Regions from separate parts of the Homo sapiens genome. Here all the other regions are linked to region 7. The links come from fine-mapping of genetic effects on gene expression. A gene starts in region 7. Each other region holds a variant in brackets. All regions are shown on one strand. Distances are between the middles of the regions.

Region 1 (4,284 bases), 24 kb after region 7:
TGCTATTCTTTAAAATCCTGAAGTTGGCCAGGCGGGGTGGCTCATGCCTGTAATCCCAGCTCTTTGGGAGGCCGGGGTGGGCAGATCACTTGAGGTTATGAGTTCGAGGCCAGCCTGGCCAACATAGCAAAACCCCATCTCTACTAAAAATATACACGCACAAAAAAAATTAGCCAGGCATGGTGGCACACACCTGCAATCCCAGGTGCTTGGGAAGCTGAGGCATGAGAACATAGTGAGACCCTGTCTGTACAAAAATTAAATTTAAAAAAATTAGCTACAAGTAGTGATGTGTGGCTGTAGTCCCAGCTACTCAGGAGGCTGAGTGGGGAGGATCATTTGAGTCCACGAGTTGGAGGCTGCAGTGAGCTATGATGGTGTCACTGCACTCCAGCCTGGGTGACAGTGAGACCCTGTCTCTAAATAAACAAACAGAAAAATGATACTGTGTCTCAACAATTGACAAAACAATTACACTGTATTAGGTATTATAAGTAGAGATGGCTTAAAGTGTATGGGAGGATATGCCTGGGTGATATGCAGATACTGCATCGTTTGCTACAAGGGGCTTGAGCATCCTTGGATTTTGATATCAGTGGAAGTCCGAGAACCAACTCCCTGAGGATATTGAGGGCCAGCTGCACACACAGATGAGAAGGAATTAGGCCACTCAGTCAGTCTTCTCCGAAAGAAGTCTTTGTTCTGCCAAAAAGACAAAGCCGGTGTGTTCTCAGGCTGGCAAGACCCTCCCACTTCTCTCCCTCGGGGAGAGCAGACCTGGGTACCTACCACCTTTGAGTTGATGTTCTCTGCCTATAGCCCTTCCCCAGGGCTCTCTGCCCCAGCCCCCTCCTCCTCCAAGCCAGCACAGGCCATGCACCCCCTCCTCTGCGCAGAAGAGCCTGGGATGCAGGGGGAACAGTCAGAGAATAGTCTAAACCACGTGCAAAAATGCAGGCCTGGTGACTTCTGCCCCTTGGGGCGGTCTTCCCACATGGGACTGTTTGTGCCATGTTTGGTCTTTTACCCATGTGGTTGGAGATACTTTGAGTACAGGGTCAAAGGGACTCATTTCCACGTGCCTGTTTTTGTCTTCAGCAAATGGCTGGATTCCCTGTTTAGGATCTGGGGGCATCTCGCTCTTGCTTCCAGCTCTCCAGTGCATGGATACTTTCCTAAAAGTAGACAAAATGTCAGTTCTTTCCAAATTCACTGCAGAGAATGGAGGAGAACAGAGTAGCCTTCCCACATGGAGAAGTTTTCTCTTTTACGCCCAGCGCCCATTGCATTGACACAGACAGTTTCGGTTTCCCAAGAAAACGTTTTCAAGCTGCCTTCATGACTCCTTGGAACTCAAATGCGCAGCTCAGAAGCCGCGGGATGCAGCGGATGCGTCACTAGAGGTACTTGAAAACTTCAGTAACACGCTTATCCTAAAGGAGAAGAAATGGCACAGAAAAGTATGCTAAGCGTCCCACTCAAGAAGTTAGAAAAGGAACAGCAGAATTACCCAGAACAGTAGAAGGAAATAAGTGAAAACCAGTAGAATTCACAAATTAGAGAAGAAAATGAGAGAAGATGGAAGTAGCTGAAGTTAGAAATCTTTTTAATTTTAGTGAAATTAATTTTAGTAGAATCGCCTCTTTTAAGTGTTAAAAAGCATTTAAGCATTTAATTGCTTCTTTTAAATGTTCATTTAAATAAAATTAGTTGAATTATATTTAATTACTTATTTGTAGTACATTAACTAGTTTTTTTATTTTATGTATTTTAAATACAATTAGCTTTTTATTTTTTATTAACATTTAATTTTAATAAACTTCATTTTACTTTAAATCAAATTTTAATTTATAATCAAGTTAAAAATAAACTACAATAAAAAGAGTAGAATGAATAAAATCTGGTAAGATTGCAGATAAAAAGACCAGTCTGGCCAAAATGGTGAAACCCTGTCTCTACTAAAAATAGAAAAAAATTAGCCCGGCGTGGTGGCAGGCACCTAATCCCAGCTTCTCAGGAGGCTGAGGCAGGAGAATCACTTGAACCCAGGAGGTGGAGGTTGCAGTGAGCAGAGGTCACGCCATTGCACTCTAGCCTGGGCAACAAGAGCAAAGCTCCATCATACACACA[A/C]AAAAAACAGAATATGCCAATGAATAACATTATGAAGAAAAAAGAAATATAACTCCAGATGTAGCAGAGTTTATAAAAAAAATAAGATGATATTAGGAATAACTATCGCAATGTGTTTAAAAACTTCGTACACAATGGACACATTCATAGAACAATATATTTAACCAAACTGACTCAAGTAGATATAGAATATCCAAATGGTATTGTAGAAATTTAATACATTGAATGAGTGGTTAAAAAGCTTCTCACTAAGAAAATGCTAGACCTAACTGGTATTATCAGGCAGCAGTAAATTCAAGTATTATTTAAGCTCCAGCAGACAAAACACAAAGAAGCAACATATGCAAACTATTTTGAGGCCAAGAATATTTTGATATTCAAACTCAGCAAACTCAACAAAGAAAGCATGGGAAAAGAAATTATAGACCAATCTCACTCTTTGTGAGGTACAAATGTTAGGCAAGTTTCAACAATAGACAATCTATGATTGTACTTTAAATATTTACAGATTAAAGGAGAAAAGAAAACAAAATGGAAACAAAATATTTCTTGTATCAATTGATACAGAAAGTAGCTGTGATAAAACTGAACACCCATTCAGGATTTAACAAACTAGGAATAAATACAAACTTCCTTAATCTGATAAAAGCTTTCTACGGAAAAATGTATGTCATACTAAAGAGTGGGATATTAAAAGTGGTCTCCTTAAAGTCAAGAACAAGTTGGGTGTGGTGGCTCACGCTTGTAATCCCAGCACTTTGGGAGGCTGAGGTGGGTGGGTTGCTTGAGCCTAGGGGTTTGAGACCAACCTGGGCAACATAGTGAGGCCCCATCTCTACAAAAAATACAAAAATTAGCTGGGTGTGGTGGCTTATACCTGAAGTCCCAGCTACTTGAAAGGCTGAGGTGGGAGGATTGCTTGAACTTGGGAGGTCGAGGCTACAGTGAGCTATGATCATGCCACTGCACTCTAGCCTGGGTGAGAGAGTGAGACCTGTCTCAAAAAAAAAAAAAAAAATCAAGAACAAGTCAAGGAAGAACATTCAGAAGAGGAAATCTAAATTACAAATAAACAAATGAAAGCTGCTCAGCTTCAGTAGTAGTCAGGGAAGGAAAGTTAAAACCACAGTTGCTATCTCCCAGTACCAAAGCTGAGCAGACAGAGATGCACTGGAATATGTATACTCTGCTGGTAGATGTGGAAAATATTACTGCTGCTTTGAAAAACCATGTAGAATTACTTAGTAAAGATGAGGATGTGCCAATGACACAGCAGTTCCACTCTGGTTTCTTACCATAGAAAATCTTGTACAAATGTGTAATAGGAAATATACATGAAATTAAATTGCTTATGATGTCATTGCTTATAGTATTACAAGATGGGTGTATTAGTCCATTTCCACATTGCAGATAAAGACATGCCTAAGACTGGGTAATTTATAAAGAAAAAGAGGTTTAATGGACTCACAGTTCCACATGGTTGGGGAGGCCTCACAATCTTGGCAGAAGGCAAAAGGCACGTCATATATGGTGGCAAGCAAGAGAGAATGAGAGCCAAGTGAAAGGCTTTTTCCTTATAAAACCATGAGATCTCTTGAGACTTATTCATTACGATGAGAACGGTATGGGGGAAACTGCCTCCATGATTCAATTATCTCCCATCGGGTCCCTCCCACAACATGTGGGAATTATGGGAGCTACAATTCAAGATGAGATTTGAGTGGAGACACAGCCAAACCATATCAATGAGAAACAATCCAAATGTTCATGATGTTTAAAAAAATGTGGGATATTCAGATCATGGAACAATATGCAGCAAAGAACAACAGAAACACAGCTACCTACTTCAGTGGTGTAATTCTTGAAACAATGGTGAAGGAAATAGCTTGAAAAAAACTCCATACAATGTCATTATGATTATATAGAGATTGGAAACAAGCAAAGTGGGGAAATGCAAATTAAAACAACAATGAGATACCAATACACATCTGTGAGAATGGCCAAAAGCCAGAACACTGACATCACCAAAAGCTGATGAGGTCGTGGAGCAACAGGAATGACCATTCATGGCTGGTGGGAATGCAAAATGGTACAGTCACTTTGGAAGACAGTTTGGCTGTTTCTTACAAAACTAAATATGTCCTGGCATATGAT
Region 2 (4,284 bases), 79 kb before region 7:
AGGCTGGGAAGCAGAGCTCTGAGTACAGACACTCATGCGATCTGCGCCAACCCTGCCGCCTCAGACGTTAACAACCTCCCGAGCCCGTCCTCCCTCACCTGCCCGCAGCGTTCTCTGTAACAGTAGTTGGGGGAGTTGTATTCCTGTTTCTCTCTGGGTTTGGGTGGCGACTCAGCTGTGTGAATAATGCACAAATACAGGAATGGAGCATTAAACTCCAGGAGGAAATGTGCCATACATACCTAAAAACATTTATGGAGAATATTAAACGAAGTGCTCTTGGACAGTAGACATTACATAAGATCATGGGAAAGGTATTAATAAGCGGAAAAAGATAAATAATAAGTGAGCACTAACTGATGATCTTGCCTGAAAGAAAAAGCAGAGACAGTGTGTGTGTGTGTCTGAGAAACAGCACTCCCCCGGACGCCTGGGCAGTGCCCTCTGAAACCCTCAAATTTCTGTCTCTAAACATACAGACTGCTTCCAATTCTTACCAAGTGGAGAATAAATTCTCATTATATGGCATTTGGCATTATTAAGCAAGTTAAATTGATCTGTGGTGACAGCTACACTTGCAAGGACAATCTGCTAATCAGCATGAATGCAAGCTCCAGATTTTCGCCTGAAAAATTCATGCCCAGGCTAGGCACAGTGGCTCATGCCTGTCATCCCAGCATTTGGGGAGGCCAACGCGGGAGGACTGCTTGAGCCCAGGAGTTCAAGACCAGCCTGGACAACACAGTGAGACCTCGTCTCTACAAAAAATTTAAAAATTATCTGGACGTGCTGGTGTGTGCCTGTGTTCCCAGCTACAGCCTCTGCGGTCCCCAGCTACAGCCTCTGTAGTCCCAGGAGGCTGAGGCAGGAGGATCGCTTGAGCCCAGGAGGTCGAGGCTTCAGTAAGCTATGACTGCACCACTGCATTCCAATCTGGACACAGAACAAGACCCTGTCTCAAAAGAAAAAAAAAAAAAACAAAAAAAACGCTCATGCAGTGGCTCACGGCTGTCATCCCAGCACTTTGGGAGGCCGAGGCAGGTGGATCACTTGAGCCTAGGAATTTGAAATCAGCCTGGGTAACATAGCAAGACCCTATCTCTACAAAAAAATTTTAAAAAATTAGCCAGGTACAGTGACGTGTACCTGTCATCCCAGCTACTCAAGAGGCGGAGGTGGGGGTTTGCTTGAGCCCAGGAGGTCCAGGCTGCAGTGAGCTGTGACTGCACCACTGCACTCCTGACTGGGCAACAGAGCAAAACTGTCTGCAAAAACAAAAAAAGAAAAATGAAAAAAATTTACACCAATTGTGCCACTAGCTCTATCATTTGCCAGTAAAATTTGAATGTAACCATTCCGCCTATTTACATCTTCCAGTAAAGTGGATGGTGCAGGCAGAGATACCCTGGGCGCTGTGAGCTGATGTTCTCCCTCCTACTCAGCTGGAAAAACACCCTCCTAAACTATCAGCTGACACACTACCTGCTCCAGTTCTGAGGACCGGGGCTGGCCTTGGAAGACAGGTGCTTTGGAAATGCATTCAAGAAAAGGAAGGCAGAGGTTTTTAGAGAAAAGAAGAAAGCCGTCACTAGAATTTCACTAGAATTTCATCCCACCTTGACTTCTTCCTCAAAAATCCTTGTCCCGATACCTTCAGATTAAAAACTAAAATTTAGGCCAGGCGTGGTGGCTCACACCTGTAATCTCAGCACTTTGTGAGGCTGAGGCAGGTTAATCACTCGAGGTCAGGAGTTTGAGAGCAGGCTGGCCAACATGGCGAAACCCCATCTCTACTAAAAATACAAAAATTAGCCAGGCACGGTGGCA[C/T]GCACCTGTAACCCCAGCTACTCGGCAGGCTGAGGCAGGAGAATTGCTTGAACCCAGGAGACAGAGGTTGCAGTGAGCCGAGATCGCGCCACTACACTCCAGCCTGGGTGACAGAGCAGGGGTCCCTCTAAAGAAAAAAAATAATAATAATTAATAAATAAATATAAAATCTGTGCTCCTCAGATGAATCAGGGAGGCTGAGGTGGGAGATGAGAAAGGGGAACTTGAGGGCCAGTTAAAGCGGAAGGAGCAGGCACTGGGGTGTGTGAGGGTTGGGGCAGAGTAGAGGGTGAAAATATAGCCCCGGGCACGTTGACTTGGGCATCACAGCAGTGGCCCTCAAAGTGGAGTCCCAGGGTGGCTTCCCGACCTCAGTTTAGGGATGGCTGAGATCGTTTTTCTGACTCCAGTTCAGAATAGTGATGAATTTTCTCCTATGCCTCAACTAAACAACGTGCCACGCAGCACAGCAGACAGGCTGCAGACAGAGGGAGGAGAGGCCAGCAGCCCTTGTGAAAGCTGGACACTAAAGAGATTCACAAAACCCAGAAAATACAGCCAACCTCCTCACAAATGTTTTCTCTCTTTTTAGAGACAGGGTCTCTCTGTCACCCAGGCTGGAGTGTAGTGACGAGACCACAGCTCACCGCAGCGTTGACCTCCCAGCCTCAGTGATCCTCCCACCTCAGCCTCCCAAAGTACTGGGACCCTGGGCGTGTACCATCATGCTCAGCTAATTGGTTTATTTATTTCATTTTATTTTTTGTAGAAATGGGGTCTCACTATGTTGCCCAGGCTGGCCTCCAACTCCTGGGCTCAAGTGATCCTCCCACCTCAGCCTCCTGAAGTGCTAGGATTACAGGCGTGAGCCACCATGTCCAGCCTGAATGGTTTTAATTCTAGAAAGTGTGGTTACACATTTTTTTCATTTAAAAATGCTATTTATGTTCTCCTCTGATTATTTAACTTCTCATATATATTATTTATGTATTCTGTTGGTTTATATTTCAGTCTCTACTTTAATTTCAAATGTAGTCAGCGCGGACAGCTGTAACACACAGAAATGAAAGTTCTGTGGGTTGTTAATAACTTTGAGCTGTGTGTTGAAGGGTTCCCGAGGCCAACATGTTTGAGAACCACTGCGCAATGCCTAATGCTCCCCGTGGAAGAGGCTCCACTGCAGCCAAATTCCACCTTCTCTAGGATCTTCTGCACCCTGTCTGCTATGCTGTATTGTCTTAGTTGACACCTATGAAGAAAATTCATCACTATTCAGATCTGTCATTGGAAAAATGATCTCACTCATCTGCTGAAACACACTTCGGGAACCCCATAGTCCTCTGGGATGCCACTTTGAGAATCACTGCTGTCACAACTAAGACAAGATGGCCCAGGGGCTTTCTCTTACCCTGCACTCTGCTGTATGTCTTGTGTGTCCCTGTGTTTTGTTCTTGATGCTTTAGCTGATTTTTTTTTTTCTTTTTCTGAGACAGTGTCTTGCTCTGTTACCCAAGCTGATGTGCACTGGTGCAATCTCAGCTCACTGCAGCCTCGACTTCCTGGGCTGAAGCAATCCTCCCACCTCAGCCTCCTGAGTAGCTGGGACTACAGGAACATACAACCACACCCAGCTAGTTTTATTTTTATTTTTTGTAGAGATGGGGTCCCACTATGTTGCCCAGGCTGGTCTTGAACTCTTGGGCTTAAGCAGTTCTTCTGTCTCAGCCTCCCAAAGTGCTGGGATGACAGGCATGAACCACCACGTCCAGCCTTTACCTGACTCTTGAGTTAAACTCTCTGGGAGAATAAAACCACAGAAATGGATGAGGAAAGAGAATAGGATGGAAGAAATCGGAGCTGAGCTTGGGTCCTTGGAAAGTGCATGAGTGATTTTGTTCCAGAATGTGCCACACAATTTTCATCTGACCTAAACATGTCTCATTCCATGAAAATAAAATCTGCATCATGATATGATCTCCTTCCTAATCACATGGCAGATTTTACCAAATAGATGGTTTTCCCTGTGCTTAGTGGAAGATTGAGATAATCACTTAAAGCAATAACACAGACAAGGCACAGTCTCACTTGATCCTGCTAAGAGTGGGAATCCAGCAAATGGAGCTGCGATAGGAAAGGTGCAGACACAGGCTGCGAAGGGAGCAGGAAGACTCTGACTGCAGGCCGGCTCCACTTGTATGTGCAGCAGTGCCCTCCCTCCAGCCACCAGAAGTTTCTGGGTTCAAGGAGGTGAGGAGAGCAGCTTGGGAGCATTGCTCTCAGAGGCAGTCAACACATACAAAATTTAGATGGTTTCAGAGCTGCTAATCAGTATAAAGAAAACAGATGGGCTGGTCGGACAGGGCATGGCCCAGGAGAACAGGGGAGGCCCCAGAGGGCTGTGGGAGCAGGTGACAGGTGAGCCTGCAGCATGTGCAGTGGAAGAGAAAGGGCCAGCCC
Region 3 (4,284 bases), 34 kb before region 7:
TGAAGTGCAATGGCACAATCAATAGCTCACTGCAGCCTTGACCTGCCAGGCTCAAGTGACCCTCCCACCTCAGCCCAAATAGTTGGGACTACAGGCGTGCACCACCAAGGGCGGATAATTTTTTAAATTGTGACTGGGTATTTTTGACTGGTTTGAGAAGGAAAAAAAAAGACCACAACCATACAATGGATTTCCTTCCAAGAGTCTGGAATGCCATTGATTGCACATGGTAACGTGAAAAGAAAAAGTTGTACTTAAGCTACCAATTTTACTTAGAGTATTTGCTGTAAACTAAAATCCCCATGTTGTAAAATATCTAAGCTAATGAATGATGAATTTACTAGCTTATAGGGCAGACTGGGAAGGGAGGAGGAGAAGTAACCTTTGCTTTTTAAGTGAAGTTTCCGATACTGAATATTTTATTATGGCAGAAATAGAAAGTGAACTACAAGATAAAGAAAAAGTGTAAGAAGGAAACAATGTCAATAGCTGACAGGTGTTAAATATTTCTTTAAAAAAAGTAAACAAATAATGAAATAGTAACACATTTTTAAAGTATATTCTCTTAGTTAATTTGGAAATAAAATAGGTTTTATTACAGTACAACATGGTGTGGACAAAATTAGGTGGAATCAGGTCAAAGACAGGAAGTGGGAGAAGGGCTTTGAGGACTGTGAACTGATACAGTTTAGGTGTTTGACTATGGCCACTGATGTTTCAATTGGATAAAACACAATTAGGAATCAGGAACACTGGCATCCAACCCAAGCTTATCCTGCCATTGGACCTATGAAATGGGCAACAGAGTAACCTTTTAACCTTTTAGTCTCCTGTTGCTCTTCTTTCCAACAGAACTTGCATATTATTAGGAAACATTAAATTCTTGCCACACCCTAAAATTCTAATAATGCAATGAATATGGTCCTTGACTTTTCTTCCTCTATCTGGTTCCTTCCTCCTTATTTATCTTTCTCTATCACCCACCCCAAGGAACCCATTCATTACTTGGCTGTGTTTACTGCATAACATTCTGTCTTAGTACTTGTATTTGACCCTCAACAGAGAGAATTCTCCATGCCTACTTTAAGAACAACAGCTATGACTCAACAGATTTTTTACACTTCTGTGACTTCTTTAAAGCTTTCTCTGAGCTGTGTGCATTATAAACATACAAAACTCAAAACACGTTACTTATGCACTGCAGCGGATCTTTGCGCTACCCTGGGAGATATTGTCAGTCCCGCCAACGCCACAATCAGACTGCAGAAGTATGTCGGTAAACAACCTTACTCAAAGCAGACAGAAGTGGCATGCTGTAATGTTTAAGGTTTATCAGCTTAAGTGCACAGAAGACAAAGGCAACATTTAATGGTGCTGGTAGATCTTCCCCGCTTGGTGTTGGAAGGCTCTCCAGTACACATTCCCCAGTTATCATTATCCCACTTGAGGAGAAAATGTCTATTTGTAGCCTTCTCTGCAGCTAAGGGTGGCCATCTGACCCAGCTTTGCCCAATAAGACATAAAAAAAGAGTGTTTTCAAGTGTTTCTAGGCAGGTCAGCTCTTTCCTTCCTGATAAGGGAGATCTTGAAGGTAAGTGGTCCATTCCCCACCCTAGAGATCCCCTCCATCTCTCTCCAAGCTAAGTAGTAGTGTTATGCACGAGGGAAATCAGATGTGGAGTTTATGTCTTTTCTTTTAATTTTAGATTCAGGGGGTCCATGTGCAGGTTCATTACATGGGTATATTGCATGATGCTGAGGTTTCGGCTTCTAATGATCCCGTTGCCCAAGTAGTAAACAGTTTCTAATAGGAAGTTTTTCAGTCTTTTCCCCAC[T/C]CCCTCCCTTCCTCTTTTTGGAATCCCCAGTGTTTATTGTTCCCATCTTTGTGTCCATGAAGTACTCAGTGTTTAGATCCCACTTATAAGTGAGAACATGCAATATCTGGCTCTCGATTTTTTGCATGAATTTGTTTAGGATAGCAGCCTCCAGCTGCATCCACTTTGCTGCAAAGGACACGATTCTGTTCTTTTGCAGGGCTGCAATGTGGAGATTAAAGTCAAAGCTTTAAGGGGAAAGCTTAAGTATGGGTTCTACAATCCCTTACCCACAGTGGCTAAAGCTAAAGGCTCTGAATACTCAAAGTGTCTTCATCAACACACCTGGCCGCAAAACTGGACCTTGCCTAACGTGAGACTGTTCAGGCTTGATCCTCCTTGGGGTGAATATCTACCTATTTCACTACAGAAATATTCTTGTCTTGATAACAACATCCAGCCCAGACTCTGCTGAGGGTGTTGTATAATTAAAAAGGACATGCACCCATTCTCATCCCAAATTTAGAAAAATCCCCAAATTCCCAAATATACCTGATCTATACATTTCAGAGACTTAGAAGGACCATGGCAATCTCGGGAAGGTGTGGCTACTTTTAAGGTGGGCACGCCCTTTTTATAGCAGGTGCAATACAGTGGGCTTTTCCTCCAACATTCAAAGAGTTGTTTCTCCAGCCAAGTGCCAGACGAGGAAGGTGGATCAGATTTATGAGCCATTCTATGTGTGCAATTCTGATCTGTAAACATTAATGCGGGGTGGACTCAGGTCTCCTCTCTCCCACTGGAGAACCTCCTGCTTTTTGAAAGCCTCTGACAGTGTGGCCACTCTCTCTGCATTCCCTCATCCATCTATCCCTCCTCCCCTACCCTATCCATCCTTCCCAAGCCCTTGGGTCCAACTCACACACAAACACATCCTGGCCTGTTGTTGTTGTTGTTGTTGTTGTTGTTGTTGTTACAGAGTCTCACTCTGTCGCCCAGGCTGGAGTGCAATGGCGCAATCTCAGTTCACTGCAACCTCTGCCTCCTGGGTTCAAGCGATTCTCCTGCCTCAGCCTCCAAAGTAGCTGGGATTACCGGTGCCCGCCACCCCGCCTGGCTAATTTTTGTATTTTTAGTAGTGACAGGGTTTCACCATGTTGGCCAGGCTGGTCTCAAACTCCTGACCTCAAGTGATCCACCCACCTCGGCCTCCCAAAGTGCTAGGAGTACAGGCATGAGCCACTGCACCTGGCCACATCCCAGCTTTCTGTCTGGAGGGATGGGAAGAAGGAGAAAGACGACCTCCACACTCCCAATAAAGAGCAAACATCATAAACTTCAACTTTCCCAGAAAAATGCCATGGGCATCTTCTGAGCTCCACCCAAATACAGGCATGTGTAACTGTAAACATACACATACACATTACGGTCACCAAAAAATGACAGCCTTTATCCCGAATGTTTAGACAACTCAGCAGAACTAAAATATTAGGTGAATCACCATGACCATGGAAAATGCTGAAAGGTTCCCTTGTTAGTGAAGACTCACAACTGGCGGCTTGGGGGCTGGGGGGAATCTACAGCCAGGCACCGTAGCTCGCAACTGTAATCCCAGCACTTTGGGAGGCCAAGGCAAGAGGATGGCTTCAGGCCAGGAGTTCTCGACCAGCTTGGGCAACACAGCGAGAGCCCCTTGTCTACAAAAACATAGAGATCTCATCCCTATTAAAAGAAATTAGCCAGGAGTCATGATGCACTCCTGCAGTCCCAGCTACTGGGGAGGCTGAAGTGGGAGGATCACTTGAGCCCAGGAGGTGGAGGCTGCAGTGAGCTATGGTTGCCACCGCACTGCAGTCTGGGCAACAGAATGAAACCCTGTCTCCAAAAATAAATAAATAAAAAATAAATAAGGCCAGGCACAGTGGTGCACACCTGTAATCCCAGCACACTGGAAGGCTGAGGTCAGAGGACTGCTTGAGCCCAGGAATTCCCGACCAGCCTGGGCAACATGGTGAGATCCCTATCTCTACGAAAAAATACAAAAATTAGCCAGGCATGGTTGTGTGCACCTGGAGTCCCAACTGCTCAAGAGGCCGAAGCAGGAGGATTGCTTGAGCCCAGGAGGTTGAGACCAGCCAGGGCAACATAGTGAGACCCTGCCTCTATTTAGAAAAGAAATAGGCCGGGCACAGTAGCTCACACCTGTAATCCCAGTGCTTTGGGAGGCCAACATGGGAGGATCGCTTGAGCCCAGGAGTTTGAGATCAGCCTGGACAACACAGTGAGACCCCAGCCTCTACTAAAAATACAAAAAAATTAGCCAGGCATGGTGGCGGGTACCTGTAATCCCAGCTACTCCAAAGGCATGAGAATGTCTTGAACCAGGGAGCAGGAGGTTGCAGAGAGCTGAGATTGCACCACTGCACTGCAGCCTGGGCAACAGAGGGAGATTTTGTCTCAAAAAAAAATT
Region 4 (4,256 bases), 830 kb before region 7:
GCCTACAGATCCACAGGAATAAGTTATAGTATTTTTGTTCCTCAAAGCCACTTGGTCGAATCCTGCCAAAACCTTTGGCTGATGCTTGGAAGCACGAAACAGGTCCTAGTGTTAACGCGTTTTGGGGTGGAACTGTAGTTTGAAGCAGAAAGGGGTTTCTTTCTGACCACCACCCTTGAATTAGGAAAAGCAGAGCAATTCTTTCTGGTTTCATAGGCCTCTGCTCTTTAGTGTACAGTACCATTTTAAAAATTATTTATTTATGTATCTTTGGCCGATTACAGTGACTCACACCTGTACCTGGTACTTTGGGAGGCCAAGGCGGGCAGATCGCCTGAGGTCAGGAGTTCAAGACCAGCCTGGCCAACATGGTGAAACCCCGTCTCTACCAAGAATACAAAAATTTGTCAGGCATGGTTGTGCATGCCTGTAATCCCAGCTACTCAGGAGGCTGAGGCAGGAGAATCACTTGAACCCAGGAGGTGGAGGTTGCAGTGAGCTGAGATCACACCACTGCACTCCAGCCTAGACAACAGAGTGAGACTCTGTCTCAAAAAAAAAAAAAAAAAGAAAGAAAAATAAAATAATTAAATCATCTATTTTAATTATTTTATTATTTTTTATTTTTATTTTTTTGACACGGAGTCTCACTCTTGTCCAAGCTGGAGTGCAGTGGCCCGATCACCGCTTCCTGCAGCCTCCAACTCCAGGGCTCAGGTGATCCTCCCACCTCAGCCTCTCAAGTAACTGGGATTACAGGCATGTGCCACCACACCCAGCTAATTTTTTTAAACTTTGTAGAGGCAGGGTCTCATAGGAGTCTCACTATGTGGCCCAGGCTGGTCTCCAACTCCTGGCCTCAAGCATTCCTCCTGCTTTGGCCTCCCAAAGTACTGAGGATTACAGGCATGAACCACTGTGCCTGGCCCCCATTTTTTTTAATAGATCAAATGAGTTGCATAGGTTTACAAACTTGATGTCTTCTATCCCTGCTCTATCCATCATCCTAAGAAACAAAATGAAGTTTTTATTGGCACAGACAATATCTGTTGGAAGCACATTCGTGCAAATCCAGCTATACCTAGTATGTGACATGTACTGTGCAAGAATATACTTTACACGGGATTGTAGCATGCCTTGAGGATGCTTGTCTGGATTCCATTGCATAGTTGCTAAATGCTGATGCTCTGTGAGTCTGTCATTATTGCAGCATTCATGGCCCAACACTCAGCTGCACAAAAGAGCTTTTCTGTTTCTCTTTCCCTCCCTAGCACACTCCTCTTGACTATCACTACTATGTTTTGATTGTTCAACGTGTAAAACAGTCCAATTTATTATTTTTTTAATGTTTAAACTGTTCCTTTTTTTTTTTTTTTTTAAACGACACAGGGTCTTACTCTGTTGCCCAGGCTGGAGTGCAGTGGCATGATCATATAGCTCACTGCTGTCTCAACCTCCTGGGTTCAACTGATCCTCCCATCTCAGCCTCCCAGGTGGCTGGGACTACAGGCAAGAGCCACCATGTCTGGCTCAAATTGTACCAGATTTACCAGTGGGACTCTCCTCACTTTAGATGGATTCTTAAGTCTATGAACTAATCCCATTAGTCTTTTTAAATTTTTATTTATTTTTGTTTGAGACAGAGTCTCGCTCTGTCACCCAGGCTGGAGTGCAGTGGCACGATCTCAACTCACTGCAACCTCCACCTCCCGGGTTCAAGTGATTCTCCTGCCTCAGCCTCCCGAGTAGCTGGGATTATAGGCGCGTGCCACCACGCCTGGCTAATTTTTGTGTTTTTAGTAGAGACGGGGTTTCGCCATGTTGGTCAGGCTGGTCTCCAACTCCTGGCCTCAAGTGATCTGCCTGCCTTGGCCTCCCAGAGTGCTGGGATTCCAGGTGTGAGCCACCGCACCTGGCCCCCATTAGTCTTTGATCACTTCCTTGCTTCCTGGCAAAATGAGATTCTCCAGAACCATCATAGATTTTCTCCCCTCACACCTGGGGCCAGGCATTTCTCCAAGGTCTTATTTTTAAGAACAAGCCAATTTTTATGTTCTAAATTGACTTCACACCTCCTCAGGGAAACGCAGCCAGTAGTTTAAAAACATCTTTGTAACAAATGAACGCTAAGCCCCACATCTTCTCTCCTTATCTATAAAAGAGGGATTACAATACCACATGCTCATGGGAATTTTCTGAGGATAAAACGAGACAATAAACATAAAGCTCTTAGCACAGTCTGTGGGAACAATTAAGCATGAAAGCATGAGCTGCTGCTCTCATTGTCAACATCCGATTGAAATCTTGTTTTTGAGACAGGGTCTTACCGTGTTGCTTAGGCTGGAGTGCAGCGGCACCGTCAGGGCTCACAGCAGTCTTGACCTCCCAGGCTCAAGTCATCCTCTTGCCTCAGTCCCCCTAGTACCTGGGACGACAGACTTGCACCACCATGCGCAGGTAATTTTTTTTTTTTTTTTTCAGTAGAGACAGA[T/G]TTCGCCATGTTGCCCAGGCTGGTCTCGAACTCCTGGACTCAAGCGATCTGCCCACCTCTACCTCCCAAAGTGCTGGGATTACAGGTGTGAGCCATCGTCCCTGGCCTTATTGAGATCTTTAGAGATACTGCCAATAACTTGGGTTTTAAAAATTATATTGCTTGAGCCCAGGAGGTGGAGGCTGCAGTGAGCCAAGATCACGCCACTGCACTCCAGCTTGGGTGATATAGTGAGACTATGTCTCAAAAAAAGAAGAAGAAGAAAAAATTACCATTAAGATAAAAAATGTTTATGACTGTGTATGACGTTTACAAATTTAGCCAGCCTACGCAACAGAGCAAGACCCTGTCTCAAAAAAAAAAAAACTTAGAAATATTAGTAAACATGGTAGACGCCTGTTCATTAATTCTGCTTGAACAGGTGGTCAAGGAAAAGAAATGACTTGAATACAGCTAAGGGCTTTTATTCAGCAGATCCTCACCAGACGGCCCCTGTGCACAGATAATTGATTCACTGTGGCACAGCAGGATCTGAGTTTTGTAAGATGAGGAGAGAGGGGTACATGTTTTTGAGGACTGGCCCAAATTTCACTTTTCTGGCCAGGCGCAGTGGTTCTCGCTGGTAATCCCAGCACTTTGAAGGGCCGAGGCGGGTGGATCACTTCAGGTCAGGAGTTCGAGACCAACCTGACAACATGGCAAAACCCCATCTCTACTAAAAATATGAAACCTAGCCAGGCGTGGTGGTGTGCTCCTGTAATCCCAGCTATTTAGGAGGCTGAGGCAGGAGAATCGCTTGAACCTTGGAGGCGGAGGTTGCAGTAAGCCGAGATCGTGTCACTGCACTCCAGCCTGCGCAACAGAGCAAGACTCTGTTTCAAAAAAAAAAACAAAAACCAAAAAACAAATTACACTTTTCTTCATCTTCAGCTGTTGCAAAACCTGGCATCGTGTCCATTGGAGACTGTCGTTGCTGTGGTTTCAATACCTCTTTCATGGTATTATGGGTGCAATCCCTTTTCAGCAACTCTCAGAACAGTTTATTTTGCAAGGCTTTGCAATATGTCAAGGTTCAGGGGAAAGTGGGGGTAACAAAAAGGGAGGAGAGGAGAAAACGGAAGAGAAAAATATAGGAAAAGGAGGCAAGAGTTGAAGCAACATAAACTGGGGTCTCTCTATGTTTTATTGTAGTGCAAACACAAAACATTAAATTTATTATCTTAACCATTTTCAAGAGTACAGTTCAGGCCAGCTGCGGTGGCTCATGCCTGTAATCTCAGCACTTTGGGAGGCCACGGTGAGTGGATCTCTTGAGCTCAGGAGATGGAGATGAGCCTGTGCAACATGATGAAACCTCGTCTCTACAAAAAAAATACCAAAATTTAAAAAAGGGGGGGAGTAGAGTTAAGAGTTCAGTAGAGTTAAGTCTAATCACATTGCTGTGCATGGGTCTCCAAAACTTTTTCATCTTGCAAAACTGAAACTCTGTGCCTGATAGCAGTGGGGAGATCCGAGTTACCCTGAGTTACCAGTGGCGAATCTGTAGGGGTCTGCGGCAATTTCAATACTTGCCTCCTTGGAAGAAAGAATTTGACTGAGGGCGTAAGGCAGAAAAAGAGACCAAGGCAAGTTTCAAAGCAGGAGTGGAAGTTTATTTTAAAAAGCCTTAGAACAGGAGGAAAGGAAGGTACTCCTGGAAGAGATGCAAGTGCATGCCTGAAGGTCAAAGAGAGCGAGAGCGAGGGAGTCTAACCTTGATCCTGGG
Region 5 (4,284 bases), 31 kb after region 7:
GGTATGGGATGCATGTTTTGATTTAAATTGCATTTATGTAGGTGTTCGTTCTATTATTCTTGAACTGTACAAAATACGATATACTCACCCATGAGTGAAAGGAAAAGAAAATAATTCTACCAGCTGATTTACTCACACTGTAGTGATGGGACTTTTTCAGCAATTTTGATGTCATGTGATTGCGTCAAGAAGTCAATCAGAATTTCAGAACTGGAACAGACCAGGAACAAAGATATCCATGAAGAAAATAACCTCAAAATTACAGTCAGTGGTAGGACTGTTGAGAACCAGCTTGTTTTTTTGTTTTTGTTTTTGTTTACATTTTCCCACCCTGTTTTGTGACGCAACACATCCTAGATACCAGTGGACATCCCTCAAAGGTGTTAACTTTCTCTACTCAAGAAGACAAGTGGACTTCATGTCATGTGAAGCTATTTTAAAATATCTTGTCCTTTTAAGAATGAAAACAACTTATTTTATGAGTCCATTTATTTTATTTATTTTTGAGACAGGGTCTCACTCTGTCACCCAGGCTGGAGTGCGGTGGTGCCATCACGGCTCAATGCAGCCTCTGTCTCCTGGGCACAGATGGTCCTCCCACTTCAGCCTCCTGAGTAGCTGGGACTACAGGCATGCACCACCACACCTGGCTATTTAAAAAATATTTTTGTAGAAATGGGGTCTTGCTATATTGCCCAGGCTGATCTTGAACTCCTAGGCTCAAGCAATGTACCCACTTCAGCCTCCCAAAGTGCTGAGATTACAGATGTGAGCCACTGCACCTGGTCATCCATTTTAATTATTTTCATGTACTTAATGAAATAACCTAAAATTCAACTAATAACCCAAATAAGACATACTATCAGGTCTTGGTAAGAAATGAGAGTCTTAGCTGGACACGGTGGCTGATGTCTATAATCCCAGAAATTTAGGAGGCTAAGGTGAGATGACTGCTCGAGCCCGGGAGTTTGAGACCAGCCTGGGCAACATAGTGAGACCCGATTTCTACAAAAAAATACAAAAACGAGCTGGGCATGGTGGCATGTGCCTGTGGTCCCAGCTACTCGGGAGATGGAGGTGGGAAGATCTCTTGAGCAGGGGGCTAAAGGCTGCAGTGACCCATGATCCAGCCACTGCACTCCAGCCTGTGCTACAGGGTGAGACCGCATCTCAAAAAAAAAAAAAAAAAAAAATGAGAGTCTTACCAGCCTGACCAATATGGTGAAACCCCATCTCTACTAAAAATACAAAAATTAGCCAGGCGTGGTGGCGCATGCCTGTAATCTGAGGTAGAGCCTGAGGCAGGAGAATTGCTTGAACCTGGGAGGCAGGGGTTGCAGTGAGCTGAGATTGGGCCACTGCATTCCAGCCTGGGCGACAGAGTGAGACTCTGTCTCAAAAAAAAAAAAAAAAAAAAAAGAAATGAGAGTCTTGAATATTAAAGCCAGTGTAGTACTTGCAATATAACATGATTTTCAAGTGGCACTTTAAAGACTTCCTTAATTCTTACTATTTCCTTGTAAAATTTCAGAGTCTAAAATGCATTTTATAGAGTAAAAGTAATAAAAAGTGAATTCATTTCTACACCACCCCCCAATCTAATCGTCTTCGTTCTCTCTTTCACACTTTCTCTCTCTCTCTCTCTCTCTCTCTATCTATCTATATATATATATATATATATATATATATATATCTCTTACGTACATATTCTGTTTAGTCCTCTCAGGCACTAATTTGGACGTCATCTTTATCTTCCTCTTGTTTTTTACAATGCAGAATCGGTCACCACATCCTCTTGACTTTGCTTTTATCAGCACCATCATGGTGGAGACTTTCCTGTCTATCTCTGTCATTCATCTCCTGCCCAGGACTACTTCAGC[C/T]CATGACCACAGACTTGCCATACCCTTCCTGTAGCTTTCTCTTTAAAGCGTCAACCCCACCCCCCACCACAGCTTCCAGAATCATTTTTCTTAGATATTGCTGAGGTCATCATGCAATTAATTACTCAGAAAAGCTTTCTGGTTCCGTTGGTGAAAAATATAGAGCTGGGAGCTAAATGACAAGAACTCATGAACACAAAGAAAGAAACAACAGACGCTGGGGTCTACTTGAGCGGGGCGGGTGGGAGGAGGGAGAGGAGAGAAAAGATCACCATTGGGTGCTGGGCTTAGTACCTGGGTGATGAAATAATCTGTACAGCAAACCCCTGTGACACATGTTTACTGATTAACAAACCTTTCCATGTACACCCAAACCTAAAATAAAAGGTAAATAAATAAATAGGCTGGGCACAGTGGCTCACGCCTGTAATCCCAGCACTTTGGGAGGCTGGGGCGGGTGGATCACTTGAGGTCAGGAGTTCGAGACCATCCTGGCCAACATGGTGAAACCCCATCTCTACCAAAAATACAAAAGTTAACCAGGTGTGGTGGTGTACGCCTGTAATCCCAGCTACTCGGGAGGCTGAGGCATGAGAATCGCTTGAACCCAGGAGGCAGAGGTTGCCATGTGCTGAGATCATGCCAGTGCACTCCAGCTGGGGCCATAGAGTGAGACTCAGTCTCAAATAAATAAATAAATAAATAAAAGATAGAACATGGGCTGGGTGCGGTGGCTCATGCCTGTAATCCCAGCACTTTGAGGGACCAAGGTGGGCAGATTGTTTGAGCTCAGACGTTTGAGACCAGCCTGGGTAACATAGTGAAACCTTGTCTCTAAAAAACATACAAAAAATAGCCAGGTACGGTGCAGCACACCTGTAGTCTCAGCTATTTGGGAGTGAGTGGTAGGAGGATTGCTTGAACCTGGGGGGTTGACGCTGCGGTGACCTGTGATCGTGCTACTATATTTCAGCCTGAGCAACAGAGTGAGACCCTGTCTCAAAAAAAAACAAAAACATATATGTAGAGAGAGAGCATCCCTGGTGTAGTGAACACTGTAGTGTGCTACTCAGTCCCTGCTATGAACATGAGTGCGTATGTACTGTTTTGCATCTCACTGCTTTTATTTCTTTGGGGTACATATTTGGGAGTGTCAGACTTTTTCTTAATCTTATTTTTTCTGGCACATTATCTCACCTTTACTCTCAGCTCTCTCCGGCGTCCATGAATCTAGATCTTTGCTTATTCATCACTGGTTAAAATTACAAGTAAGTTTGTCCAAGTTGTCGAGATGTGTTCATCTGGCTGCAAGGAGTAGGAGGAGAATTCTTCTGACAAGCACTGCTGTGCAAAGCTCCTGTCTCCAGCCCCGCCTGTGTCTGCACCTTGAGAGCCACCTGCTGTCTCCCATTCCTGAGATGGTTAAGATTTCTGGGACTTCTTGTTGGGTTGTCCTGTGTATTGCCATGAGTTCATTGCCTCCATCTCCGTCCTGCCTGCCATGACAGTTACTGCTAGCTTAGAGTCCTAGTCCATTTGGGCTGGGAGGCTTGTAGACAACAGATGTTTATTGCTCATGGTTCTGGAGGCTGGAGGTCCAGGAGCAAGGTGTGGCAGATTCAGTGTCTGGTGAGGGCTTCCTGGTTCATAGATGGCACCTTCTCACTGTGTCCTCACATGGTGGAAAGGGTGAGGGAGCTTTCTGGGGTCCCTTTTCTAAGGGCACTGATCCCATTCATGAGGCCCCACCCTCATGACATCAGCACCTCCCAAAGGTCCCACCTCCTAACCTCATGACTTTGGGGGTTAGCATTTCAACATAGGAATTTTGGGGGTCACACACATTCACACCGCAGCATCCATCTGCCTCCAAGCCTTCTAAAGGTCATCCTCGTCTTTTGTCTGCTGAGGGGGAAAAAGAGAGACAGACACCCATGCGCGCGTGCACACACACACACACACACACACACAAACACACAGCAAAGATAAACTATTTTGTTAAATTTGCTATGTGCTATGTACTATGTCTAACAGTAAGTCCTGGTTATTTGTTCATAAACCTGCATTTCCCATTAGACTATATCATCTGGAAAGGAGAATATAATGTTTCCCTCAGCCTTTTTATTTCTGACTCTCAGCATACTGCCTCAAAACAGGAGCGATCAGAACGTGTTCATTAAGTAGGCAGACGTGTCTCATCAATGCCAATGTTAATTAGCATCTAGAGGTCCAGGTATCTCTCCTACTGCTTAAACATGCTACATCGAAAATTAGAGAAATGAAACCAAGCTTGCTTCTATGTGTGAGAAAAGAGGGGATAAATGGCTTGAAATGAGAATGATATTTTTTCTCTTTTTCTTGAGACAGGGTCTTGCTCTGTTGCCGAGGCTGGAGTGCAATGGTG
Region 6 (4,284 bases), 99 kb after region 7:
TTATCAGTCTTGAGGGGGCTGCTACAACATTCTATGGAATGAGAGAGCATTGCTGTGTCAGGAAGTACATACTATTTTTTTCTGCCTCTTTCTCTACCTTAAAAGGATATGCTCAGAATGAGTTGAAATATGGCCATTTTTTCCCCTGAAATCGAGAGCCAGTTGTTGACTTGGAATCATTCAATGTCTCCATTTGTTTTGGGTTAGATTGTTTGAATGGAGGATTCTACTACCAAACACTCATAAGATGGCTTTGAGCAGAAACAAGGCTGATCAGCCGGTATGTACACAATTCTTGGCTTTACAATATTTCTTGGGACATTCTTGGGCTTAAAATATGGCCACACCTCTGCAGTGGTAGGTCAAACAGCCTCTGTCCCAGACCTAAGCTCTCTGGATGCCACACCCCAGACTGGGACTCCCAATCTCATGGTTCACGCTGGCAATGCCTGACCCAGGACATTATCTTGCCATTGAGACCAGGGTCCTTCTCCTTGGACAGTTCCTGTAACTGTTATTGAGTATTTTGAACAGCATTGAATATTTTGTTGAATACTGAATATTTATTGAATATATTGAATATCTTGAATAACAGTCCAAGCAGAAATAAGTATCGGGACACTTTGTTCTCGTTGACAGTCTCAGGTTTCAGTTCTGGCCATATGAGTCTTGGGTGGTTCATTATTGTGAAGACTCCACAAAGTAAGATGGGTGTATGGTGAAGAATAATCAAAGGTAAATAAAGGCACCATCTCGAAGTGGACTTGCCATGTTGCATGGAAGCATGAATGTGTTGAGTCTTTTGTTGTTGAAAATGGTTCTAGGCTGGGCACAGTGGCTCACGCCTATAATCCCAGCACTCTGGGAGGCTGAATGTGTTGAGTCTTCTGTTGTTGAAAATGGTTCTAGGCTGGGCACAGGGGCTCACGCCTATGATCCCAGCACTTTGGGAGGCCGAATGTGTTGACTCTTTTGTTGTTGAAAATGGTTCTAGGCTGGGCACAGTGGCTCACGCCTATAATCCCAGCACTTTGGGAGGCCAAGGTGGGTGGATCACCTAAGGTCAGGAGTTCGAGACCAGCCTGGCCAACATGGCAAAACTGCATCTCTACTAAAAATACAAAAATTAGCTGGGCATTGTGGTGGGCGCCTGTAATCCCAGCTACTGAGGACGCTGAGGCAGGGAGAATGGCTTGAACCTGGGAGGCGGAGGTTGGGCAGCAGAGCCTCGGGAGGGGAGGAGGGGAGGCGAGAGGGGGAGGGGAGAGGGGAGGAGAGTTCTAGCATCCCCAAGTCTGCCCTTGAGAATGTGGTTTGAGAAGGGAGGTGGATTCTTTCAGTGGTGTTCACAGAGCAATTGAAACTTTAGATTTCTCAGAGTGAGCTAGTTTACTAAAGCCTACATATCTGAAAACATAAACACTTCTTCATTAAGGGTGCCCTTTAAGCCAGAAACAAACTCAACCACCAACCACCAAACCCACAAATGAGACAAAACCAAACCAAACCAAAAATCCAACAAATAAACAAACAAAAAACTTTCCCTGAGACAAACCACAGAACTTTATTTTGGGAAAAGAAAACATTTTTTTGTTGGTCAAACTATCAGCTCCTATGAAATACTCTTAGAGATGTTTATCCTGAGCTAGTTTTTTTTGTGGGGAGGTGCTGTTTACATGCTATGTTAAAAATAACACGCAAAAATTCACGAGACATTGATGATGATGATGGTTATACAAATAACGAGAATAATGATATTGGCATACATCATGTGAGTGGAAAAAAAAAGTTGATGGTGGTGATGACAATACGATCGAAACTGCTTTTGCTCCGTGGAAAGCCCTTTGAGATGGGGACCTGGCTGTGCAGTTTGCGGTGTATTTGCCTAAAACGCCATCTGGC[T/C]GCTACGTAGAGGAAGAACACTGTTTGCTTTTCTGGCCTTTGTTTTCATAATTCTTCAATTTCTCTTTATGCTCCTAAAAATTCTACATAATCCCATTTCGAACATTGCATTCATTCTCTTTTTTTTTCTCTTAGAAAACAATAAGGGTTTTCATTAAGAAGTAAGTCATAAGACTGCAAGAGAACAAATAAAACTCTTAAGAGGTCTCCCTCCCTCCCTCTCTCTCTGCAGGCTGGGGGTGGAGGATTCAAACGAAATTTTGCTTGAGAAAGTAGCCTGCTCGCTTCAGAAAATTGAATATTTTATTCAAAAAAGGTTAATTTTGCAGAACCAATTTGGCACACCTTTACATCATTCACACTACCTTCCCTGCCCCGTTATTTAGAGAACTCTAAGAAACATAATCTATACATGCACACAAAGTTGGGAACAGTAGATACTAGGGAATACTAGAGGGTGGAGAGATGGAGGGGCCAGGGCTGAAACACTACCTGTGGGGTGCTATGCTCAGTACCTGGGTGATGGGATCATCTGCATTCCAAACCTCAGTGTCACATGATATACCCATGAAACAAACCTGTACCTGTACCACTCAAATCTAAAATAAAAGGTAAAATTATATATAAAAAAGGAATATGATCCACAGAATGTATCAGACAAAAGGTGTTTGTTATGGTGGCTAATACACTTGGGGTTCAGAAAGTCAGTGGTGGCCACACACGGTGGCTCATGCCTGTAATACTAGTGCTTTGGGAGGCTGAGGCGGGAGGATCATGTGAAGCCAGGAGATCGAGACCTCTCTGCTACAAAAAGTAAACAAACAAAAATTGGCTGGGTGTGGTTATGCATGCTTGTGGTCCCAGCTACTTGGGAGACTGAGGTAGGAGGATCACCTGAGCCCAGGAGGTCAAGGCTACAGTGAGCTATGATTGCACCACCACACTCCAGCCCAGGCAACAGAGCAAGACCATGTCTCTTAAAATTTTTTTTTTAAAGAAAAAAAGAAAGTTGGTGGGGACGTGAATTCTAGAACTTTCTCTCCTCAAATATTTAGAACAGGTTGACATGGTACACAACGTTCTTAAAAGAGCTTAGCAAGAGGACGGAGGCTCAGCATTTGAAGGAAGCTGAGTGAGACAGATTAACTAATAAACAAGTCAAGTCACCAGTTAAGAATTGGTCCAGGCATAGTTGCTCATGCCTATAGTACCAGCACTTTGGGAGGCCAAGGCAGGAGGATCACGGGAGCTCAGGAGTTTAAGACCAGCCTGAGCACCATAGGAAGTCTTCATTTCTACAAATAATTAGCCCGGAATGGTGGCACAAACCTGTGGCCCCACCTACTCGGGGGGCTGAGGCGGGAGGATCGCTTGAGCCTGGGAAGTGCAGTGGCGTGATCATAGCTCACTGCAGCCTCCACTTCCCAGGCTGAAGCGATCCTCCCTGTGTCCTCACATGGTCATCCCTCTGTGTGTGGCTGTATCCTTTTATTTTCTTGAAGACAGGGTCTCGCTCTGGCCCAGCAAAGAGTGCAGTGGTGCGATCATAGCTCACTGCATCCTGGACCTCCTGGGCTCAAGCGATCCTCCTACCTCAGCCTCCTGAGTGGCTGGGACCACAGGCGTACACCACTACACCTAGCTAATATATATATGTTTTCTAGATACAGAGTCTCCTTATGTTGCCCAGGCTGGTCTCAAATTCCTGGCCTCAAGCAATCCTCCCGTCTCAGTCTCCCAAGTAGTCGGGTCTACCAGCACGCACCACCATGCCCAGGTAATTTTAAAACTTTTTGCGGCTGGGTGCGGTGGCTCATGCCTGTAATCCCAGAACTTTGGGAGGCCGAGGCAGGCAGATCACTGAGGTCAGGAGTTAAAGACCAGCCTGGCCAACATGGTGAAACCCCGTCTCTGCTATATATACAAAAATTAACCAGGCGTGGTAGAGGGCGCCTGTAGTCCCAGGTACTCGGGAGGCTGAGGCAGGAGAATCGCTTGAACCCGGGAGGCAGAGGTTGCAGTGAGCCGAGATTGTGCCACTGCACTCCAGCCTGGGTGATAGAGGGAGACTCCGTCTCAAAAAAAAAAAAAAAGAAAAAAAAAATCAAAAACTTTGTAGAGACAGTCTTGCTATGTTGCCCAGGCTGGTCTCGAACTCTTGGCCTCAATGTATCCTCTCGCCTGGGCCTCCCAAAGTGCTGGGATTACAGCACTTGGCTCCAGCTTGACCTTTGTTGGTAGAACTACTCAGAAAATATGACCGATTTAGAAATTGGGTGGTGCCAAGTAAACCCCACCCAAACCTATCCCCGCACCAGTTCTCATCTACCTTTTTCGCGTGTTGGGGAACTAGCAAGGCAGGGGCTGCCGCTCGCGGGGGCT
Region 7 (4,284 bases):
TTTTCCATTGTCGAGTTGTATTTCCACCTACTGTGGCGGCTGCGCCAGTCAGGGTTCCTGCCCCACCCTTCTTCCGCGCAAAACACACCCAGCTCTAAGATTAGACCAGGACAGCTTTCCGGGGGGACCAAGACAAGGGGGAAGGCAGAGAGAGAGGAGGGAGGGAGACAGAAAAACCAAGACCGGAAGGGGACAGGGAGAGAGACACCAAGAGACAGAGGAGGAGAAATGCAGAGAGACTTGAACAGAGACAGAAAGAGGGAGAGAGAAGAGAAACAGAGAAAAGAGAGAGAGAATGAGATAAAGAGGAGGAGGGAGGGAGAGGAGAAAGAGAGAGGGCCTCCTCCCACTCTGTCCTTCCAAATTCAGGCTTTCCTCGTGGGCCCTTCCTCAAGGTCTAAGTGGCAAAGAGGTCACTGAAGGAAGCTAAGTCCCCTCTTCCTCAGCGGTTCTAAAGGCCCCACTGGCTATGCCCGCTGGTCTTCCTAAGTCATAAGCTATGGCCTCGAGCCCTTGGGCTTCCCAGCCCAGCTTCCTCCTTTCCAAAATGAGGACAAACAGGAGTTAGAGGGCCTGAGAGCCGACGCCTCACCAACACACCCAGGACAGCCCCCTCTACTCTCCCATTTATTTTCTTGACAGCCAACACCCCACTTAGCCATACGGAGTCCCTAAGTGGCACAGGCGGGCCGATGACAACTGTTTAAATCCAGCGCCCACGTTCAGTTGGGATATTCTGACCCACTCAGGGCTGCTCCATAAAGCAGCGCGTGTCCGGATGCAAGAGCACCGAGAACTCGAAACCTCTCTGTCAAGCTGCCCATTCGGGGTTAAGTTCAAAGACAGAGGACAAAGGAAACGGATAAAGCGTCCGATACAAGAATTACCCATTTCAGAGGCACAAGACGAAGAGCACAGGCGGTGTCAGGACATGTTAGGATCCGTCCCCAGCGCTGCCGTCCTCGTCCCCACAGCGCCCCGGGACACCTGTCCCCCACAGCCCAGCTGCTCCTGCAGCCCCTGGAGAAATCTGTACATTCCCTGCCTCTGGGCACACAGGGAGGCTGGCCTAGGGGAGGCCTGCAGGGGTCTTCGCACCCCGCGCCAGTGTCCCTGGGGCCGCTGCCAGGGAGGGAGCACGAGGTCCCCCAGGCGAGGTGACCCGCAGGAGGTTTTGTGACGTCGGACGGCCCAGGCCCCAGAGTGCTGTGTGTGCTGGGGGTGGAGGGTGGTCTCCGAGAGGAGCCGTCGGCATTTCAGGTTAGGCACCCGGCCGGTCGGGGGTACTTGCCTGGGCTGGGGGGCTGGGGAGTGCGCTCCACCCGGGAAGACCCGGGGCGCAGGTGCAGCCCCGCACGGGGACTCCGAGCCGAAGTAGCGGGTCAGGGCCCTCCCCAGGAGGTCGGCACCCAGGGCCCTTTGTCCTACTACAACGTCCCGGCCACGCCGCGCGCCCCTGTGGGCCGAGTCCCCGCCCGCACTCACTCACCCACGGTGGCCAGCGTGTCAAAGTCCTGCAGGCTGTACACAGGCGGCTCCGGCGACAGCGCCTCAGGGCTGGGGCAGAGCGCGGGCGCCCCGTCGGGGGTCTCCTCCGCCACCTTGCGGGAGTCGCTCTCCGCCGCGGCCGCCTGGGCCAGCCCGGGCGCCTCCATGGGGACGCACTCAGGTCCGGGGCACCGGGCCAGGCCGGAGCGCTCGGGGAGCCGGGCTTCCCGGGACGCAGCCTCGGAGGGCGGCGCGGCGGCGGCATCAACAGAGGCTCCCCATGCGCGCTCTCGCCTCCTGGTGCGCGGTCCGGCGCGGCTGACGGAGCGACGGGGACAATGGCTGGGCGGCGCTCACGGCACAAGCAGCAACGGCCCCGAGTGGGAGCAGCCGCCGGCCTCGGGGGGCGGGCACCGAGTGCGGGACGACTGCGGGGAAGGCGGGGGCCGCGGCCCGGGCTGGGGGGGGCGAGGCGGGGGCCCTGCGCATTCCGGGTCTCGCGCCCGCCGCCTCCTCCAGCTCGGTAGCCGCGTGCGCGCTGTTGGGGCGGGCGGAAGCCGCCTGGGCGTGACCGCGCCTCTCCCCGCCCTAACCCGGCCGCGGGGCTGGGGGCGTCGCCTTCGCGCGCGCTCCGCCCCCGCCCCGACCCAGCCCAGGAGCCGGAGACCCGGGCGTGCGGCGCTGGGGAGGTGCCCACGCCCCCTCCGCGCCCGGGGCACCCCTGGGGTGGGACCCAGGCTGACTTCTCCTCGGGGACGCACTGGCGGGCCACCCGCGTCGCTGCACCCAAGCCCGGAAGATGGGGAGGCGAGGGGGCCCGGGGACAGGGAGGGCGTAGCTCAGCAGAAGTGAAGTTCAAAACTAAAAAGTGAAACTGGCGTTTGGTGAAGAGAGGGGCTCGGATTAGCCCGGCTAATTTTTGTATTTTCTCAGTAGAGACAGGGTTTCACCATGTTGGCCAGGCTGGTCTGGAACTCCTGAGCACAAGTGAACCGCCTGCCTCGTTCTCCCAAAGTGCTGGGACTACAGGTATAAGCCACCACGCCCAGCCTCTGATTGGCTTTAAGTCATAGAAAATAGGATTGCTCAGCTGGCAATCTGCATACAGATCCCCTCTGCCCTCCCCCCAAAAAGTTCAGTACTCCTGCGGGTGCTTGTTTGGGACCTGAGAGAATTTGGAATGAGGGCGGATCCCCAAGAGGGGCTGCCGGGTCTTCGGGATGAGTTCAGCGTCCTGGTTTTGCTGTAGGACTCTGGTGATTCTAGATTTCTACTTGGAAGGGGCGGGGAAGGGCGGGCTCGACCCTGTGCGTTTCTTTGCAGCTTCCTGTGGATCTAGAATTCTTTACAAATAAACATTCCTTTAAAAAACTAGGGAAAGACAGATTTGAGAGATCGCCCGACCAAATGTAGTGCGTGAAACTTGATTGGTCACTGTTTCAAACACCCCGGCGACAACCCTATAAAGAATTGTGCAGAGGCATTTCAATTTCAGAAACCCCAAAGATTTTTTTTTCCTGGCTTAAGTGTGGCTCAGGCAATAGTTGGACATACTTATATTTAAAACCCATATCCGTGTGGATTTGAAATGCAAATATAGCTAGATATTTGGTCACCCCTTTCCCCAGGGAAATGCAGACAGTGCTTAACTTGCGGGCCTGGCACGGCCTGGACGCTGCGCCCCTGACCCGCGACCAGGGCGGCCCAGGCTGCCGGTTCGCCGACCACAGTTTGAGCAGCAAGGGGTCAAACTGCAAACGCCTTTGTTTTGAGGGATCTCAGCGATTCTGCGATTGGAGGGGGTCTCCAGTCCCTCAGTCCGCAGGTCAGGGGGGCTTTCCGAGAGCCAAAGCGGCCTCTAAGTCAGAACGGACACATTTTTAGGGGGACCAGGCCGAGCCATCCTTCCACAGCTAACGGGGAGGGGGAGTCAGGAAGTCTGAACCTGGCTCAGGCTTTGGATTTCTGGCCCCTGGCTGCCAGCCTCGCCCAGCCTCCACCTGCATTTTGTGGGTGGCATTTCCCCCCGGGGGTGACACCCGCTCCCTATGCTCTGCAAAATCCTGAGCTGGAATGCAAAACATATGCGACACCAGCAGGCCCCTGCCATCCCCTGAGCCTGGTTAGGACAGGTCACGGCCCTGCCAAGCTTCACCAGCAAGCCGCGCAATCCCTTGATCCTGGTTAGGACAGGAAACGGCCCTGCCAAGCCCTGCCTGGCCGAGGGGTTCAGGGCCAGCAAGGAACGCGCACTCAGGAAAAGTTCGTGTCTCCCCGCGGAACGCGCGCCCTCTCCACTAGGGCCTGACCTTGGAAATGCAAGGCTGCGGCCTCATAAAGTCCTTTTAATCAAGGCCCGGGTTTCACACCCAATTAAGCAGATGTCCTTGCCTGCAAATTGCACGCAGGAAGAAGAACGTGGCACAGATTTGCAGCGTTAAACTCTGCTTGAGCTGCTGGTTGGTCTGATTCCACCGAACCCACCCTGAACTTGACCGCATAGCTACCTCTTCTTATAAATAGACCCTGCACGTTTCACAACACCTTGCTTGACAAAACAGCTTTCATCTGGAAGGATCATAAAAATCCTTGAGAAACCACAGCCTATTACTTGAGAGACAAAAAAGGAAAATCCCTGTGAGTTAGGCATGGAAGGGTCATTACCGCCTTAATGAAGTGGCATTAATTTGCGGTGGAGTCAGGAATTGCTGAACTCTGCCATTCGGAAGGAATAAGTCCCTGACCCTAAACCAGAATGAGCTATAAATTCAATACAATGATAGGTGCAGGTGTTGT

The links.
Region 1: its variant is fine-mapped to the expression of PRKX in lung (TOPMed, PIP 0.99).
Region 2: its variant is fine-mapped to the expression of PRKX in whole blood (TOPMed, PIP 0.98).
Region 3: its variant is fine-mapped to the expression of PRKX in whole blood (TOPMed, PIP above 0.99). The same link has a PIP of 0.9 or more in monocytes.
Region 4: its variant is fine-mapped to the expression of PRKX in thyroid (GTEx, PIP 0.98).
Region 5: its variant is fine-mapped to the expression of PRKX in blood mononuclear cells (TOPMed, PIP above 0.99). The same link has a PIP of 0.9 or more in T cells and whole blood.
Region 6: its variant is fine-mapped to the expression of PRKX in whole blood (TOPMed, PIP 0.91).

The regions. Positions count from the first base shown.
Region 1 is chrX:3,735,389-3,739,672 of GRCh38, forward strand. No RefSeq gene overlaps it. Among named protein-coding and RNA genes, the nearest start is that of PRKX, 24 kb to the left of the region's middle. The variant A/C (reference allele first, on the strand shown) is at 2,131.
Region 2 is chrX:3,632,293-3,636,576 of GRCh38, forward strand. The region is part of intron 4 of PRKX (protein kinase cAMP-dependent X-linked catalytic subunit); the gene reads right to left. Among named protein-coding and RNA genes, the nearest start is that of PRKX-AS1, 25 kb to the right of the region's middle. The variant C/T (reference allele first, on the strand shown) is at 1,828.
Region 3 is chrX:3,677,376-3,681,659 of GRCh38, forward strand. All of the region lies in intron 1 of PRKX (protein kinase cAMP-dependent X-linked catalytic subunit), which reads right to left. Among named protein-coding and RNA genes, the nearest start is that of PRKX-AS1, 20 kb to the left of the region's middle. The variant T/C (reference allele first, on the strand shown) is at 1,836.
Region 4 is chrX:2,885,023-2,889,278 of GRCh38, forward strand. No RefSeq gene overlaps it. Among named protein-coding and RNA genes, the nearest start is that of ARSD-AS1, 18 kb to the right of the region's middle. The variant T/G (reference allele first, on the strand shown) is at 2,492.
Region 5 is chrX:3,742,143-3,746,426 of GRCh38, forward strand. No RefSeq gene overlaps it. Among named protein-coding and RNA genes, the nearest start is that of PRKX, 31 kb to the left of the region's middle. The variant C/T (reference allele first, on the strand shown) is at 1,881.
Region 6 is chrX:3,810,296-3,814,579 of GRCh38, forward strand. No RefSeq gene overlaps it. Among named protein-coding and RNA genes, the nearest start is that of TRI-GAT1-1, 26 kb to the right of the region's middle. RefSeq lists silencers at 1,409-1,478, 4,264-4,284. The variant T/C (reference allele first, on the strand shown) is at 1,903.
Region 7 is chrX:3,711,599-3,715,882 of GRCh38, forward strand. It overlaps PRKX (protein kinase cAMP-dependent X-linked catalytic subunit), which reads right to left and starts at 2,051. Exons shown (of 9, transcript NM_005044.5): 1 at 1,490-2,051. The coding sequence starts at 1,655. RefSeq lists enhancers at 145-274, 675-984, 3,316-3,963 and silencers at 1,155-1,434, 1,475-1,604, 1,625-2,354.